Linked DNA regions of Homo sapiens: region 2 is linked to region 1. Evidence: fine-mapped QTL for protein levels in blood plasma. A gene starts in region 1. The other region holds a variant in brackets. All regions are shown on one strand. Distances are between the middles of the regions.

Region 1 (2,924 bases):
TCCAGAGATTAAATCCTCCAGTTTCCTGGGATAGAATGGGGAAAGGATCCCTTGGTTCTGTGGGCATTCAGTGGGAAGATTCACTCTGAATCCCGTTATTTTCATCCCTGCTCATGTTAGTCTGGCTTCTCTGGGTCTAGAACCTCACCTGATATTTAGATTTTTCACTGATACCTTCAGTAGAAGCAATGTTGAATGTTTGAGGTTTGCTGGCTGTTTACAATCAATTAAGGATTTTTAAAAATCTAGAACATTTGTGAATTCTTATATTTTCTTCCTGGTACTAAGTAGGAGCTAGCCACAGGTAGGCCTCATCATATGGATACATTACCCAAACGGTCACAGGTCAAAGGACAATGTAGTGATTAACCATAAGCTTTGGAATCAGGAAGTTCTGGGCTTCAGTGTCTTCCTAAAACTTAAAAAAAAATTTAATTTTTTTATTAAACTTTTTTTTAAATAAAAAATTGAGATGGGGTTTCGCCATGTTGATCAGGCTGGTCTCAAACTCCTGGCCTCAAGCGATCCTCCCATCTCGGCCTCCCTAAGTGCTAGGATTACAGGTGTGAGCCACTGTGCCTGTCCTCACTTTTCTTTCTCCATTATTAGGGCAAGGAGGCCAGGGGACAGGGTGAGGGAGAACCTAGAATGGGAATGGAGGCAACTTTCAGTCTAACTATGCTTTGGCCCCATGAGGAATCTACATGTAAACACTTGCCAGTATGGAGAGTCAATTGCACTTTGTGACAGGCTGTACAGCAGTTGGGACAACTGTGGCACATGCACAGGTTATACAGGCATATTTGCACCAGCACATGCATGGATGCTTGTGCACATATAGGAAACCCACTATACACATGGACAAAGAAGCACAAGTATGTCCACGCCATCCCTCCACACACACACTAGTCACCAGGAGAAAAGGGCTCAGCACATTTCATCATGCATCGCCCATTGGGGGAAGCCATGTAGGACAGGAGAAAGGGAAGATTATGAGGCAAAAAGAGAAATGAAACTAAAGAGTCCCACCCTGTCAGCATTAACTGGGATATAAGAGGTTGGGCTTTGGATAGATAGACAGACTCCTGGGTCCGGTCAACCGTCAAAATGTCCAAAGAACCTCTCATTCTCTGGCTGATGATTGAGTTTTGGTGGCTTTACCTGAGTAAGTGTTCTGAAACCTTCTATGTAGAAGTTTCCAGAGGACTTGCTATTGTGTGATGGATTTCCATGCACTGGTTTGGGCCTCAGTGAAGCAGAAGCTCACTTCATTTCTGCATCCCTCCCCTCTCCCTACCAGGCTTCCTTCTGTGGAGGGTCTCTGTCCTGCCTTGTTACACAGAGGTTTATCCAGAGACTGGTCTGGGGGTTTTAGGCTGGGGTAATTTGGGCTTATATTGGAAACAGCAACTGAAGAAGAGACACAGAAATAAGTGGTCAGATAAATTGGGGAAAAGAGATTTCCTCTATGGGTGTTATTCATATAATCAATAAGCCAGGAGAATTTGTTCTGGTGAGAATTGTGATAATTCTTATCATTCCCTCTGTTTTTAGAAGTGTTTGCTTTTTGTTTTGTTTTGCTGGGGTGAGGCTTTATGTAAGGTTTCTTTTCTGCACGTTGTTTTTGGGTTTTGGATGATGCAAGTGTACACACTCAGTTTTGGCCAGTGAAGTTCTTTGCATCCTGGTGGTATAGAGCCAAGTGTTCTGGCCTGAGCTGCAGCTGCGTCTCGGGCACTAACTGTTGACACTGGGAATATGTCTAAATTGCTCTGGCTCTCCCATATTTGAAATGAGAGACCTGGCTTTTTAAATGACCAGTTGTCACAATCTGTGCTTCTAGGACAAGATAATATTGAATGGCCCTTGCAGTTTTACAAAAGTCCATTTTTTTTTTAAATGGATACAAAATAACTATACATATTTATGGGCTACATATGTGTTATTTTGATATATACATACAATGTACAATGATCGAATCAGGGTAGTTGGGATATTCATTTCTTGAAACATTTAAATTTCTTTGTGCTGAGAACATTTCAAATGTTCTCTTCTAGTTATTTTGAAATACACAAGAAATTATTAATAACAATAGGCACCCCACTATGCTATCAAACACTAGGACTTATTCCTTCTATTTAATTGTATTTTTTCCCTTTTTCCTCATGTTCTAACTAACTGTATTTTTGTACCCATTAACCTGCCTTTCTTCATACCCCTTTTCCCCTATCCTTTGTAGACTCCAGTGACTATCATTCTATTCTCCACTTTCATGAGATCAACTTTTTTAGCTCTCATGTATGAGTGGGAACATGCAATATTTGTCTTTCTGTGCCTAGCTTAACTTAACACAATATTAATAAACTCTGTTTCCATCCATGTTGTTGCAAATGACTGAGTTTCATTCTTTTTTTATGGCTGAATATTCTACTGTGTTTATATACCACATTTTCTTTTTTTTTTTCTTTCTTTTTTTTTTTTTTTTTTTTTTTTTTTTGAGACGGAGTCTCGCTCTTTTGCCTAGGCCGGACTGCAGTGGCACTATCTCTATCTCGGCTCACTGCAAGCTCTGCCTCCTGGGTCCACGCCATTCTCCTGCCTCAGCCTCCCAAGTAGCTGGGACTATGGGCGCCTGCCACCATGCCTGGCTAATTTTTGTATTTTTAGTAGAGACGGGGTTTCACCATATTGGTCAGGCTGGTCTTGAACTCCTGACCTCAGGCGATCCACTCACCTCGGCCTCCCAAAGTGCTGGGCTTATAGGCGTGAGTCACCGCACCTGGCCATATACCACATTTTCTTTATCCATTCATCCATTGATGGACACGTAGGTTGCTTCTATATCTTGGCTATCGTGCATAGTGCTGTAATAAACATGGGAGAGTAAATATCTCTTTAATTGATTTCCTTTCTTTGGGATATAT
Region 2 (2,924 bases), 58 kb before region 1:
CTCACCCATGTAATCCCAGCACTTTGGGAGACTAAGATGGGGTGGATCACTTGAGGTCAGAAGTTCAAGACCAGCATGACCAACATGGTGAAACCCCATCTCTACTGAAAATATAAAAATTTGCCAGGTGTCTTGGTGCATGCCTGTAATCCCAGCTAGTCTCAGGAGGCTGAGGCAGGAGAATCGCTTGAACCCAGGAGGCTGAGGTTGCAGTGAGCCGAGATTGTGACACTGCACTCTATCCTGGGTGAGAGTGAGACTCTGTCTCAAACAAACAAACAAACAAACAAACAAATAAATAAATAAATAAAAATAAAAAATAAATTGATAAAAGAATGTTTCTTAGAACCTTCCTGTGTACTCTAGGGATGGGATAGAGCAAGGAAGAGTGTCTCTTTTACAAGTCCATTTATATTACTGGCTGGAGCCGGTGTGAATCTCAGTGACTTTCTGAGATCAGTAATTTGCAACCTTAGCTGCGTGTTAGAATCATCTGGGAAGGTTGAGAAACTACCCATGCCTAGATCAATTAAATCAGAATTTCAGGAGGGGGTCGCAGATATTATAATTTTTTCAATCTCCCCAGATTTTTTATGTTTTTGAGACAGATTCTTGCTGTGTTGTCCAGGCTGGAGAGCAGCAGTGTGATCAAGGCTCACTGCAGCCTCAACACCTGGGCTCAAGCAATCCTGCTGTCTCTGCCTTCGAGTAGCTAGGACTACAGGCACACCACCATGCCCATCTAATTTTTTTATTTGTAGAGACTGGGTCTCGTTATGTTGCCCAGGCTGTTCTTGAACTCGTAGGCTCAAGAGATCCTCCGATCTCAGCCTTTCAAAGTGCTGGGATTCCAGGCATGAGCCCTGTGACCAGCCTTCCCCAGGAGATTTGAGTGTGTAGCTGAGACTGAGAACCACTGACCTTGAGAGACTTGGGAAGGGGATATGACAGCATGTTTCTATGTTGTGTGTGTCAAGTGCTCTGGAAGGACATAAAAGACACAAAATGAAACAGGAAAATGTCCACAATAGGCTAGAGCAGGGGAAAAACCAAGTAAGAAAAATGGCAAGAGGCTGGTGACCACAGGTGTGTCCTATGTCTAGCACCCACTACAAGAGCATGATGTTGGTGGCACCCCTGGGAACAAGAAGGCTGAATGTTGCCATGCTTTTGGAAAGCTTCCCAGGAAGCTGGCTCACAGCTGTTCAGCTGACTTTGTCCCTGGGCCTCCTAGGAACTAAATGTTTCCCCTACAAACTGGTAAAAATAAATAA[G/T]AAAGTCCCCTTTGGACTGCGAGGAAATGCTCTAGGGTAACCCCTATTTTGTGCTGTGGACAGCTGAGATGGGGCTTGCTCTGCCTGTAAGTGCCTGCACCTGCTTGAGCCTAAAAATACTTAAAAAAAATTTGGGAATGAGGTCTTGCAATATTGCCTGGGCTTGAGTGCAGCGGCTATTCACAGGCATGATCTTAGTGCACTACAGCCTTGAAATCCTGGCTTCAAGTGATCTTCTTGCCTCAGCCTCCAGAGTAGCTGGGACTCCAGGTGAGCATAACCTGGTCAGCTCTAAAAAATACTTTGATGATGACTGATGCACACATTACTTAATGGACTTTAATTTTTAGAAAAGTTTTAGGCTAACAGCAAAGTTGAACAGAAAGTACAGAGTTCCCACATAGACACCTTCCTCACACAATACACACACACATGATTTTGCCACCACTGTTAACTTTCCCCACCAGTGTGGCATATTTGTTACAAATGATGAATCAACATTGACACATCATTCTCAATTGAAGTTCATAGTTTACATTAAGGTTCATGCTTTGTGTTGTGCATTCTATGGGTTTTGATAAATGTGTAATGACATGTACCCACCATTATAGTATCATACAAAATGGTTTTGCTGCCCTAAAAATCTTATAGATCCACCTAGTCATCCTTCCCTCTCCCCAAATCCCTGAAAGTCACTGATCTGATCTTTTCACTGTCTCCATAGTTCTATCTTTTTCAGAATGTCATATAATTGGGGGTCATACAGTATGTAGCCTCTTCAGATTGATTTCTTCCAATTAACAATATGCATTTAAGGTTCCTCCATTCTTTTGATAGCTACACAGCTCATTTCTTCTTATTGCTAAATAATATTCCATTGTCTGGATGTATCACAACTTATTTTTGTTTATTAATTTGCTTTAGTTGCTTCCAAGTTTTGGAAATTATGAATAAAACTTCCATAAACATTCATGTGCACACAGGCTTTTGTATAGACATAAGTTTTCAATTGATTTAGGTAAATATCAAGGAACACAATTATTGCATTGTCTGATAAGAGAATGTTTAGTTCTGTAAGAAACTGCCACACTGTTTTTCAAGGTGGCTGAGCCATTTTGTATTCACACCAGCAATGATTGAGAGTTCCTATTGCCCCACATCCTTGCCAGCATTTAGTGCTGGATGTTAGCCATTCTAATTGGAATGTACTGGTATGTCATTGTTGCTTTAATTTGCATTCCTTAATAACATAAGATGTTAAACATATTTCTTATGCTTATTTGCCAGCTGTATATCTTGAAAAATGTTTATTAAGATATTTTGGCCATTTTTTAATCAGCTGGTTCATTATCTTACTGTTGAGTTTTAAGAGTTCTTTGTATGTTTTATCAGATATGTCCTTTGCAAATATTTTCTCCCAGTCCATAGCTTGTCTTTTTACTGATGGTGTTTTTTGCAAAGCAGAAGTTTTTAATTTTATTAAATTCCAACTTGTCACTTTTTTCTTTCATGGATCATGTCTTTAGTGTTGTATCTAAAAAGTCATTGCCAACCCCAAGGTTATCTAGATATTCTTCTGTTATCTTGTATGAATTTTGTAGTTTGGCATTTTACATTTAGGGCTATGATCCATTTTGATTTAATTTTTGT

Alleles and levels. Positions count from the first base shown, and alleles are read on the strand shown. Strength reflects both the effect of a copy and how common the allele is.
For the plasma level of the protein whose gene starts at base 1,080 in region 1, G is the high allele of the variant in region 2 and T is the other (weak association).

Evidence for each region. PIP is the chance, under the fine-mapping model, that this variant and not a neighbour inherited with it causes the effect. Protein levels are from antibody-based Olink assays in UK Biobank. Linkage for the fine-mapping came from a reference panel and not from the study's own genotypes, which makes the PIPs less certain.
Region 2: its variant is fine-mapped to the plasma level of the TIMD4 protein (UK Biobank, PIP above 0.99).

What each region holds. Positions count from the first base shown.
Region 1 is chr5:156,961,382-156,964,305 of GRCh38, reverse strand. It overlaps TIMD4 (T cell immunoglobulin and mucin domain containing 4), which reads left to right and starts at 1,080. Exons shown (of 9, transcript NM_138379.3): 1 at 1,080-1,165. The coding sequence starts at 1,108.
Region 2 is chr5:157,019,013-157,021,936 of GRCh38, reverse strand. No RefSeq gene overlaps it. Among named protein-coding and RNA genes, the nearest start is that of HAVCR1, 39 kb to the left of the region's middle. The variant G/T (reference allele first, on the strand shown) is at 1,275.